Linked DNA regions of Homo sapiens. The protein of the gene in region 1 purifies or fractionates together with the protein of each later gene. This does not show direct contact. Each region holds a gene or a part of one and is shown on either strand. Other genes may lie near its edges.

Region 1 (7,139 bases):
TAACCAAGTGTCCCAAAGCATGTACCTGAAGTTATATCATTTTTTATTCTAAAAAGCTATGCAGCTTATATTCTGAAAACTATTAAAACATATACCACTGTTGTTGATGTAATTTGTGACTCTTCTTAATGGAAGATGACAGGATTGTAAAAGGTATGCTAGGGGACTGATCTTCTCTGCTGGATCAGTCAGTCAGCTGTTACTAGTTGATGCTGTGCTAACATGATCCCCTCCTACTTCCATGTTGCTCTTACTACAAAGGTTATCATTTGCATTTATGTCCATGGTAGGCTGAGCTATAATATGCTGGCTTTGCAGCAGAATGAAAAGGATGAGTTGGTGTAGCCTTATAAGGAGGCTTATAAAAATTAATTATCCTCCATAAATGATGATGTTGCATCCCACTCACATTTCATTGGCTAAAGCCCTCTATGGGGCAGGGAGTTTAATCTTCCAGTAGGGTTGAGTCTGGGAGGGAAAGACACCAATATTATGACAATGCTGCAGTCTATTACATCTGCCTTTGGAAGCTCCATCTTTCTTAGACCTCAAACTGGTGTGCCCAGAGTGATTCCCTTGGCCCTGGGTTAGCTCATGAGATCATGGACAGTAGGAATTCCAGGAAGCAGGAACCCAAGAGTGCCATTTTCAACTTGTGCTGCCAACAGGGGCTTGCAGGAGTAGTGATCAATTAATCTGCCATGTTGATAGTTGACATTTGTGCTATCCTGCCCACCCCCCCCTCCCCCAACCCCCCAGGCCTTGGCCAAATAGGTAAGTAAGTAAGTTCTGATATTTAAGGAATGGACAGCAGAACACAAAAGTCCTCCATGCTGTCTTAAAAATCTCACTTTGGGGCTGGGTGCAGTGGCTCACGCCTATAATCCCAGCACTTTGGGAGGCCAAGGTGGGTGGATCACTTAAGGTTAGGAGTTAGTTTGAGACCAGGCTGGCCCATATGGTGAAACCCCATCTCTACTAAAAATACAGAAAATTAGCTGGGTGTGGTGACGCGCACCTGTAATCCCAAGCTACTTGGGAGGCTGAGGCAGGAGAACTGCTTGAACCAGGAGGTGGAGGTTGCAGTGAACTGAGATTGTGCCACTGCACTCCAGCCTGGGCAACAGAGCAAGACTCTATCTCAACAACAACAATAAAATCTCACTTTGGATAACTTCTTCACCACTCCCGTGGCCTCCACCATCACTGAAGCAAAAGGACTGTAAAATTCTCCATCCAGGGGTCCAGGAAATCTACTCTTTGGTATTCTTAATTATATTCAGACATCTGCTGGATGTCACTGTGTTCTAATTCCCCTATTCCAAACCCATTCCTTCAACATTCCCCATCTGGGATGACCACTCCAACAGCCACCCTGTTTACAAACTTGGGACTTAACCTATACATCTGCTTTACTTCCTTCTCCATCTCTATCCATACCCCAATCAAATTAATTAATCATCTTGTCCAGTCAGGCTTCTGGATATCCTGTCCCATCCCTCCCCCTCCCCCTACTGCACTGTGACTGGGACTCTTTTAATCTCTAGCAGGGACTACTTCAATGGTATCCTGGCCAGGCCAGTAACTTCTCTTTGCTTGCTTCACTTCATCCTATTCACAACATCCAAGATCTTTCTAAAAGTTCTGTAGCTGAAAATCCCTTCAAAGCTCTCCCTTGTGAAGAGGGTAATATTCAAGCTTCTTCATGTGACCTGTGAGGCTCTTGCTTGACTCTCCTGTCCCTCCTCTCCCAGCATTCCTGCCAGTGTTTCCATGTGTTGTCTGGAATCCTCTTAGTGATTCTGCGTTTCTGACAAATACCTAGCTCAGACAAGCCCTCCAGGAAGAATAATTTCCCACAGTATGAACTGCAGCATTCTTTGTTAGCACTATATTGAACTTAGAGGTTTTCCTGCCCAAAGCATGAGTCTTTGAGCAAGGAGCATATGTGACTCACGACAGCATTACCAGTGTCTAGCAAGAGTGAGCCCTTTTTTTTTTTTTTTTTTTTTTTTAAATAGAGCTTTGCTCTTGTTGCCCAGGCTGGAGTGCAATGGCGCAATCTCGGCTCACTGCAACCTCCGTCTCCCAGGTTCAAGCGATTCTCCTGCCTGAGCCTCCCAAGTAGCTGGGACCACAGGCGTGCGCCACCAGGCCCGGCTAATTTTTTGTATTTTAGTAGAGACGAGGTTTCACCATGTTGGCCAGGCTGGTCTCGAACTCCTGACCTCAGGTGATCCACCTCGGTATCCCAAAGTGTTGGGATTATAGGCATGAGCCACCGCACCTGGCCTGAGTGTTTCTTGATGGGAAGAAGAAATAATGTAAAAATGTCTTTCTCACATATTAATGTATAGATTCAACACTACTTCAAAATTCCAACCAAGATCACAAGATGATTTGGAGGGAAATGATACAAAACATTTCTAAAGATTATAGAGAACAGTACTAATGGATTTTTTACAAGAAACTAGAGTCCTGCCAGATAATAAAAACATATAAAACAAAAAGTAAAAACTTAACCCTAAATGAAACAATTCTGGACAGATTACTCAGACCCTAAAAGAATTTATCATACAGTCAAAAAGGCATCCATCATAAAGCCCCGAAAAAGGAATGAGTTATGTAATCAATGGTATTGATACAGCTTAACATCTAGAAAAGAACTTAGATCCACGTGATGCTGTAAACCAAAGTAAATTCTAGATGGAGTAAATATTTTAAAAATTAAAGTTTTTAAAAAACGAATTACAAAGGCCTGAATGGGAAATGAAAAGCCTCAAAAGGCACAAAAATACATGATTGTATAAAGTTTCTGTATGTATAAAGAAATGACAAAAAATATAGAGCCCATATAAATGTCCTCATCATAAACGGACCCAAGTCATGAACAATTCACAAAAACAGTATAACTAAAAATGGCGAGGGGTATTTAACTTCACTCCTTTTAAAAAGTTAGCAATTAACTATTACAGCTAATGTATTAGACAAAATTTGGCATATATTATTGATAATATGATCATGCAGTTAGCATCATTCATACAATGCCTGGTAAAGTTCAAAAGAGCTAATGATTAGAGTTCTTACATGTGCCAGGACCTGTTCTCAGTACATTAGAGATACACAACTGAGGTAGATGCTATATTTCACTTTACAGGGGAGGTAATAGGCCAGGAGAGGGGAAATAGCCAGAACACAGCTAGGAATAGGGAGCCCCAGGATGCTAACAGGCGAGGCAAGCAAGTCCCCAGTAAACTAGTAATTGAACATTTTTCGTTCTATTTTAATTCGATACAACACCACTTGGAAAATTAATATGGCAAAGATTCGCTAACTCCACTTCTAGTGATTTAACCCAAAGGCATGTGTATTGTGGGAAAGATAAAACAACTATAAGGAAATAAAAGCAAAAGCCTGAGGCTTAGGGATGTTAGGCTCCTCGTTATTAGTGATGAAAAGTGCTTAAGACTGAAGTGGGTGAGCCATTCAAAGCTTTGTTTCAAATGATCATGAAGGCCACCGCTCCCGGAAAACCTTTGCGCTACAAAAGAACAGGACAAAAACGAGAAAGAGAAAAAACCAACACAAACTGTAAAAGAAATTAACACTTTCAATTTTAGTATTTTCAACTATACACATTTTTAAAGGCTCGAAAGAACATTTAAATACGTTTTCACCTCTTTCCCCCAAAAAAACCTTAACTTTTTTTTCGAGACAGGGTCTCGCTCTGTCGCCCAGGATGGAGTGCAGTGGTGCGATCTCGGATCACTGCAACCTTCACTTCTCGGGTTCAAGCGATTCTCCTGCCTCAGCATCCCGAGGAGCTGGGATTACAGGCACCTTACAGGCCTCCCAGAGTGCTTGGGACTGCAGGTGAGAGCCACCGCGCCCGGCCTCCTTCACTTTCATTTGAACTCTCTTTACCAGGAACTGTGTTAAGTGCCCTACCTTTCTTCTTTATCAAAACGACCCTATGGTGCACTGTTATCCTATTTTACCGACGAGAAAACTTCGGCCAGCGCAGCAGCTAGGGCTCAGTCCCGAAGCCTCGCGCTCTCAGTCCGAGAGCAACCCGCGGGCCGTCTCCTAGGAAACCGGGCTCGCCACACCCCTTGGTCGAACCCCACTTCCGCTCCTGCGCGCTGAGGCTCCGGCGGACCTCTGGTGGACATGGCTGCTTCCCGCTTACCCCCAGCGACGCTAACGTTAAAGCAGGTACCGGCGGTTCTCTGCCTTCCAAAGCAGCTTACCTGGGTCTGAGCTGGATTCTCCATCTGTCCCTATCCCCAACGGGGCGGGTTCCGGGGTCCTGATGCGGCGTGCGCGCCCTCTGAGATTGGCCCGATGCCTGCGGGGCGGTGCTTCGCTCCGCGGGGCCTGACGGGAGGCACTGGCTGCTTCCTTGGTTTGGTGCGATCGCGTGAGACAGCGTCAGGCGCTTGATTTCCCTGAGTCCCGGTGCCTCAGCTGCCCAGTGCCCACGGTAAAAGTCTATTGCACTGAGCTGTGGCAAACAGCAAATGAGATTACCAAAGATTTGAACAACTGTTAATTTAGAAAAAGTGCTGTCGTTGTAATAACAACTTCTAGGAGACCGGCAGCCCTTTTCAGCCCGGTAGGCAGCTCCTGATTTTTTAATGGTTCTTAGGTTTGACAGAGCAGTAAGCAAAAAGATCAGATGAACCTCGTGATGCTTTCTTTAAAACATCTTTTTGAGACAGGGCCTCACTCTCGCCCAGGCTGAGTGCAGTAGCGCAATGAAGGCTTACCTCAGCTTAGACCTCCTGGGCTCAAGTGATCCTCCCATCTTGGCCTCCCAAAGTGCTGGGATTACAGGCCTGAGCCACTGCATCTGGCCAAAAAAAGAAAAAAAAAAGTTTTTCTTTGCCTTTTTCAAAATTGACCAACGAGAAGTACTCTGGTTACAGCTTGGTTTGCTGAAGTAGAACTTTCCAGGCTGGCGATTGTGCAGTAGTAATTGCTATTTACTCCTCCCTTTTACAGTTCGTAAGAAGGCAACAAGTTCTTCTCCTCTACAGAAGGATTTTGCAAACAATTCGGCAAGTTCCAAATGATTCTGATCGCAAATACCTGAAAGATTGGGCAAGAGAAGAATTCAGAAGAAACAAAAGTGCCACCGAAGAGGTGAGAACAAAATCATGGTGAGGACAGATCCTAACCCTTTTTATTGATCAGTGAATTTTTTTTTTTAAGTTTAGCAGACATCTTGGAATATAGTGCCACTGAGCTGGTATATCTTGATCATTGCTTGTAATGTTACCGATTTTAAATTATTATTTTAAAATTTAGTATTTTAAAATATGTAGATAAAAGAGTATCTACACTCTTCAGCATCATCACTTGACTTTTATGTTGTACATTTTATATGTATGTATGTGGAACTCTTTTAGCTTTTCTAAAAGGCAGCAGTTCCAATAGGTAGTATTGGTTCTTGATTTTAACAGATAAAATGGTATAGCTATACCTTGTTTAACCAGGTAAAACTATAACCAGATTTCACTTTATTCTACAGGATACAATCCGGATGATGATTACTCAAGGCAATATGCAGCTCAAGGAGTTAGAAAAAACACTTGCTTTAGCAAAATCTTAACTATAGCATTATTCTGAAGGATTTTCAAAGTCTCCATGTGTTTTGTTGCATTTAGGATTAACAATGGACAACACAAAGCCCAGTCTTACTATTTATATGTACAGTATTTGGTGATAGAGAGCAAAGGAAAAACACATCAGAACAGTTGCCTTAACACTGAAAAACATACCCTGCATTTTGAAAATGTTTATGGATGTCTCAGCAGTTCTTAAAAGAAGAAAAAAACCACTAACAAATGGCCAGTAGATGCTGGACACAATCATTAGGGAAGTGTAAATCAAAACTACTATGAGGTCGGGTGTAGTGGCTCATGCTTGTAATCCCAGTACTTTAGGAGGCTGTGGTAGGTGGATCACTTGAGGTCAGGAGTTCAAGACCAGCCTGGCCAGCATGGTGAAACCTCATCTCTACTAAAAATACAAAAATTAGCTTGGTGTGGTGGTGCATTGCCTGTAGTCCCAGCTACTTGGGAGGCTGAGGCAGGAGAATCACTTGAACCCAGGAAGTGGAGGTTGCAGTGAGCTGAGGTCGTGCCACTGCACTTCAGCCTGGGTGACAGAGTGAGACAGTCTCTAAAAAAAAAAAAAAAAAACAACCCTGAGATTCACATTCACTAGAATGGCTGTAATTAAAAAGAGAAATAATAATAAGTCTTGGTGAAGATGTACAGAAATTACAGAACCCTCATACATTGCTGGTGGGAATGTAAAATGGTGTAGCCACTTCAGAAAACAGACGGTCAGTTCCTCAAAAGATGAAACAGCTGCTGTATGAGTTAGCACTTCTACCCCATGCCCATAGCCATTATTTGGCACTAAAAAGAAACGAAGGACTTATATATACTAAACATGGATAAACCTTGAAAACGTTAAGTGAAAGAAGCCGGTCACAAAAGATCACATGATGATTCCATTCATACGAAATGTCCAGAATAGGCAGAAAGATTAGTGGTTGCCTAGGCTGGCTGTAGATGGAATGGAGTAACTGCTAATGGGTGTAGGGTTCCTTTTCAGGGTGATGAAAATATCCTACAGTTAGCTTGTGGTGTAGGCTGCACAACTCTTGAATATATTCAAATCCACTGAACTGTACATTTTAAATGTAAGGTATGAATTGTATCTCAATAAAGCTGTTATTAAAAAACTCTTGAGGTGTAGGACTGAAAGTATACTGACACCAGGAGATACCCTGGAACTTTCTCGAAAAATCCTGCATTATCCCTGAGGGTTGTTCAGGTACGTTCTTCAGATGTGTCATAGTTTGATAGAGAACTCATCAAAAAGATCACCACTGGGAATCTAGATCTTTGTTGAAAAGGGAAGAGAAAGAGAAGCTTAATGAGCACATTGAAGCACTTACCAGAAAGAAGAGGGAAGACTTCTGGATGAAACCTCTGTGAGTACCTTAACATTCACATGGAAGTAGTAAAAATAAGATTCTGGGTGCAGTTCTCCAATGACAGGAAAAAAAACAAAGAGAATTTGAAGAATACGTCAGAGACAAATACATTACAACCAAAATTGAC
Region 2 (5,190 bases), on another chromosome or scaffold:
TAGAAAAACAAGAATATATTAGCAAACATTCTTATTAGTTTATGTAAGTCATGGTAGTATAAGAACATGGTTGAGACTAGGTGTGGTGGCTCACACCTGTAATCCCAGCACTTTGGGAGGCCGAGGTGGGTGGATCACGAGGTCGGGAGTTCAAGACCAGCCTGGCCAAGATGGTGAAAACCCGTCTCTACTAAAAATACAAAAATTAGCTGGGCGTGATTATGGGCACCTGTAATCTCAGCTACTCGGTAGGCTGAGGCAGAGAATTGCTTGAACCTGGGAGGAAGAGGTTGCAGTGAGCCGAGATCTGCACTACTGCACTCCAGCCTGGGCAACAGAACAATACTCTGTCACAAAATAAAATAAAATAAAATAAAATAAAATAACATGTTTGCAGGAATGAGATTGTATAAAAGGGCTCGTGAAAAGCAACGGTTCCCTCCCGTCCCCATCCCTGTCCCCGTCCCTGTCCCTGTCCCCGTCCCTGTCCCTGTCCCTGCTCTCCCAGAGATAAGTGGTTTTACTTGTTCCTTTTTGAAGTTAGGTAGATTCTGTGGTCCACATTTCCCATATTACTCACCTGAAAGTAATAATACTATTATTATTATTTTGTTTTTGGTAGAGATGGGGTCTTGCTATGTTGCCCAGACTGGTCTCGAACTCCTGGCCTCAAGCAATCCCCTCACCTTGGTCTCCCAAAGTGCTGGGATTACAGGTGTGATCACTGCTCCTGGCCCACTCTTAATATGATTATTACCCAGAATTAAGAGTCCCAAGCTCTTATCCTTCATTCATTCTCTCACTGGCCTTGGGCATGTAGCAGTGAGCAAGAGCACACACAGTCTGTGCCCTCGTGGTGAAGGCAAAAGACCTTAATCCAGAGAAGCACGTTCATCCCTGAGAAATTCCAGCCGCAGAAGTGCTGCAGGAGAGGGACTGAAGGATTTGACTCAGCGAGGCTGGGGATGGCAGCCCAAAGCAGCGAGGCCTGAGCTGCGATCAGAAGGAGAGGAGGGGCAATAACCAGCTGAGGGATAGGAGGTGGCATGTGCAGAGGCCCTGTGGTGGGGAGGGTGCGTGTGTGTGGATGTGCAGAGGGGGCTGGACGAAGGTCAGTGTGGCTCACGCTGTCCTGCTCCTTACCTCTGAGTTCCCTGAAAGCATCCTGTGCCTTCTGCTTGCTCGCTGCCGTGGCTGTGGACGGAGCGGGGAGCAGGCGTGGAGGCGGGGGCAGGACAGCTTGAATGAGAAGTGCCATCATATAGACCTCAGTGGGACTGGGTCTTCAGCTTCTGGACTTGGGGATCCCTTGTGCGTGGCTGGGGTCACATGGCCTGAGTTTCTGCAGGGCACTGCCTCGGGGGCAGGAGGGTTTGGGCTTGGGGAGGGTGGGCTCGCCCCCGGCAGCTGCCCATGGCGTGCCGTCCTTCCCTGTGCCCAGGTGAAGAAGATGGGCGGGCTTGGGCTTCTGGCCATGGACGTGCCCGAGGAGCTTGGCGGTGCTGGCCTCGATTACCTGGCCTACGCCATCGCCATGGAGGAGATCAGCCGTGGCTGCGCCTCCACCGGAGTCATCATGAGTGTCAACAACGTGAGCCCCCTCCCAGGCCCCTGGGACACACGGGTGGAGGGAGGCTCCCGTGAGCGGGCAGGCTCTGGCCTCGGCTCCCAGCCCTGATCTCTCTGGAGACGTCACAGGCCTTGGTCCTACTGGGTAGGCCCTGGACAGAACAGGCCCTGAGGTGCAGCCCGCAGGTGGGCAGGATGCGCCTGGGCCTGGGGCCTCCGACCGCTCCCCGCTGTCCTCCTAGTCTCTCTACCTGGGGCCCATCTTGAAGTTTGGCTCCAAGGAGCAGAAGCAGGCGTGGGTCACGCCTTTCACCAGTGGTGACAAAATTGGCTGCTTTGCCCTCAGCGAACCAGGTACCTGCCCTGTCCCCTCACCTGTCCTTAGGGTGACAGGCCCAGAGGGGAGGAGAGGAAGGTGCTAGGCCAACTGCCCACTGCTTCGGAGGCCAGAGGGGAGGCTCCCCGTGTGGTTGGTAGGGTGAGCGCTCTTGCCACCGCGGCGCTGGGAGGAAGATTGCCTTCGGGGTCCCCTGGTTTAAGACGCCAGCTCCTGCACACCCCCCTCGCCCTCTGGTCCCATCACTGAGAGCTTTGGGACCCTCATCTTTGGAGCCCGAGTCATAGGGTTTCGTGTCTGCCAGCAGGGGTGTGGAGGGAGTGAGGCTGGTGCCCTTAGGTTGTGTGGGGTGGGGCGTGCGCTGAGCCCTGGGTCTGTGTGGGCAGGGAACGGCAGTGATGCAGGAGCTGCGTCCACCACCGCCCGGGCCGAGGGCGACTCATGGGTTCTGAATGGAACCAAAGCCTGGATCACCAATGCCTGGGAGGCTTCGGCTGCCGTGGTCTTTGCCAGCACGGACAGAGCCCTGCAAAACAAGGTGGGCCCACCCAGAGAGGGGTTCAGCCGGATCCTGGGCTGCTGTCATTTCTGTTTCTAGGGCCTTCTCTCCTTGGCCCGACTGGACCTATTTTTGCTCTGGGGCAAGTGGGCTGTCCCTGTCCCTCCTCAGCTGCCACTGAAGCCTGCACCTTCCCCAGAAGCCGGCAGAGGGTGTCAAGGCCTGAGCTTCTGAGGGAGGTGGGGAGGGGACCGGGTTGGTGTTGGGTGTGCTGGTGTGAGGGTGTGGCTGAGGGGCAGCTCTGAGAAAACCACCCGCCTCTCCTTTCAGGGCATCAGTGCCTTCCTGGTCCCCATGCCAACGCCTGGGCTCACGTTGGGGAAGAAAGAAGACAAGCTGGGCATCCGGGGCTCATCCACGGCCAACCTCATCTTTGAGGACTGTCGCATCCCCAAGGACAGCATCCTGGGGGAGCCAGGGATGGGCTTCAAGATAGCCATGGTGAGCCCGGCAGTGGGGGTGGCACCTTGAGGCCAGGCCCGCGCCCCGGCTGGCGGGCCACTGACCAGGGCGGTCCCCACAGCAAACCCTGGACATGGGCCGCATCGGCATCGCCTCCCAGGCCCTGGGCATTGCCCAGACCGCCCTCGATTGTGCTGTGAACTACGCTGAGAATCGCATGGCCTTCGGGGCGCCCCTCACCAAGCTCCAGGTCATCCAGGTAATGGTGGCAGCTTTAGGAGCTGGGCCTAGAGGCTGGACAGCGGGCGGAGAGTGTGGCCTCCTGACTGCTCTCCGTCCTCCTCCCCCTCCCTTCTGTCCCCTGGAGGGGCAGCTGCTGACCTGTGGTGTGGGGTGGGGCTATTGCAGTTCAAGTTGGCAGACATGGCCCTGGCCCTGGAGAGTGCCCGGCTGCTGACCTGGCGCGCTGCCATGCTGAAGGATAACAAGAAGCCTTTCATCAAGGTGCCCACAGGGGTCCCCGAGCCATGGCCCAGAATGTGGTGGGCCCAGGGACGGGGAGAGGTTGGGGCGGGTCTCTGCTCCTTGGCCCCGTGGGTCAGAGGTGTGGGCCTGGGGTTTACAGCCCCATGGGGAGGCTCCACAGGCCTCCCCTGCTGAGGGAGTGGGGGAGCAGGGGATGGAGGGGTCCCCTCAAGGGAAGGCTCTGACTGTACCCCCATGTTTAGGAGGCAGCCATGGCCAAGCTGGCCGCCTCGGAGGCCGCGACCGCCATCAGCCACCAGGTGAGTGTCCACAGTGAGCTCTGAGGGGGCCAGCTGCCCCTTCTCCAGCTTTCCCCACGCCGGGGTCTTCTCCCTCCTGAGCCACTGTTCTCATCTCAGGCCATCCAGATCCTGGGCGGCATGGGCTACGTGACAGAGATGCCGGCAGAGCGGCACTACCGCGACGCCCGCATCACTGAGATCTACGAGGGCACCAGCGAAATCCAGCGGCTGGTGATCGCCGGGCATCTGCTCAGGAGCTACCGGAGCTGAGCCCGCGGCGGACTGCCCCAGGACTGCGGGAAGGCGCGGGAGCCAGGGGCCTCCACCCCAACCCCGGCTCAGAGACTGGGCGGCCCGGCGGGGGCTCCCTGGGGACCCCAGATGGGCTCAGTGCTGCCACCCAGATCAGATCACATGGGAATGAGGCCCTCCGACCATTGGCAGCTCCGCCTCTGGGCCTTTCCGCCTCCTCACCACTGTGCCTCAAGTTCCTCATCTAAGTGGCCCTGGCCTCCTGGGGGCGGGGTTGTGGGGGGGCTGAGCGACACTCAGGGACACCTCAGTTGTCCTCCCGCGGGCCCTGGTGCCCTGGCATGAAGGCCCAGTGCGACAGGCCCTTGGTGGGGTCTGTCTTTTCCTTGAGGTCAGAGGTCAGGAGCAGGGCTGGGGTCAGGATGACGAGGCCTGGGGTCCTGGTGTTGGGCAGGTGGTGGGGCTGGGCCATGGAGCTGGCCCAGAGGCCCCTCAGCCCTTTGTAAAGTCTGATGAAGGCAGGGGTGGTGATTCATGCTGTGTGACTGACTGTGGGTAATAAACACACCTGTCCCCCAGTCTGTGTCCTCGCCCTCTCCTGGGTGCTCCGGGGAGGGATGGTGGTCTCTGCACAGAGTCCTGCTCTCTGACAGTCTCACCCTGTGAGTGTTGGGGGTCTTGGGGAGGGGCCTGGCCACCTGGGAGGTTCCTGAGTTCCGGCAGAGGCCAGATTGGCCAAGGAGGCAGTTCAGGAATAGGAACTGGGTCCTGCAGGCCTCAGGGAGTGGCCCCTGGGGAGGGAGGGTGGGCCAGGCAGGGCCAGTGGGCTAGAAGGGGTTCTCTACGCAGGACCAGCCTCCAGGCAGGAGGAAGGAAGGCCCCAGATTGCCAGAGTCGGGGAGCAAAGCTGTGGAGGCCTCGAGCCCCAGGTGGGAGAACACAGAACCTCGAGAAGCAGCCATTGTGCTCACTAGCGCGCTCGGGGGCGGCCCTGGCCAGCCAGTGCGGGGGCTTGCCCTGGTCCTGGTGCCTGCAGGGCTTTCTCTGGGCAAAGGTGCCCCTGAAGCCAAGGTCCAAGCTCTTAACCCTCTGGGCCAGTGTCGATCTCAGCAGCTGGAAGAGAAAACAGTGAGCAAAGAAAGATTTCAAAGGAGGTGGGGACAGCCCTCCGCCGGGCAGGCAGGGCAGAGAGTCAAACTGGCATTGCTGGGAGGTCTCTGGAGGGAAGCGGGAGGGAGACGGTGACTTTAGGAGCTGTCATCAAAGGGGCGCCCAGGGACCCTGAGCCCCTGTTGGGGATGGAT

The links.
Region 2: the proteins of LYRM2 (region 1) and ACADS purify together in Homo sapiens (affinity purification with mass spectrometry; 2 studies listed by BioGRID and IntAct, with this or other methods). This does not show direct contact.

Annotation. Positions count from the first base shown.
Region 1 is NC_000006.12:89,635,748-89,642,886, reverse strand, and holds the start of LYRM2 (LYR motif-containing protein 2), read left to right. Parts: upstream 1-4,139; 5' UTR 4,140-4,170; coding exon 4,171-4,215; intron 4,216-4,250; exon of another isoform or gene 4,251-4,355; intron 4,356-4,401; exon of another isoform or gene 4,402-4,615; intron 4,616-5,004; coding exon 5,005-5,145; exon of another isoform or gene 5,146-5,162; intron 5,163-5,533; coding exon 5,534-5,614; 3' UTR 5,615-7,139. UniProt on the Homo sapiens protein: Involved in efficient integration of the N-module into mitochondrial respiratory chain complex I.
Region 2 is NC_000012.12:120,735,545-120,740,734, forward strand, and holds the end of ACADS (short-chain specific acyl-CoA dehydrogenase, mitochondrial isoform 1 precursor), read left to right. Parts: intron 1-1,441; coding exon 1,442-1,591; intron 1,592-1,811; coding exon 1,812-1,923; intron 1,924-2,292; coding exon 2,293-2,444; intron 2,445-2,504; coding exon of another isoform or gene 2,505-2,644; intron 2,645-2,735; coding exon 2,736-2,906; intron 2,907-2,988; coding exon 2,989-3,126; intron 3,127-3,275; coding exon 3,276-3,371; intron 3,372-3,595; coding exon 3,596-3,652; intron 3,653-3,751; coding exon 3,752-3,904; 3' UTR 3,905-4,464; downstream 4,465-5,190. UniProt on the Homo sapiens protein: Short-chain specific acyl-CoA dehydrogenase is one of the acyl-CoA dehydrogenases that catalyze the first step of mitochondrial fatty acid beta-oxidation, an aerobic process breaking down fatty acids into acetyl-CoA and allowing the production of energy from fats.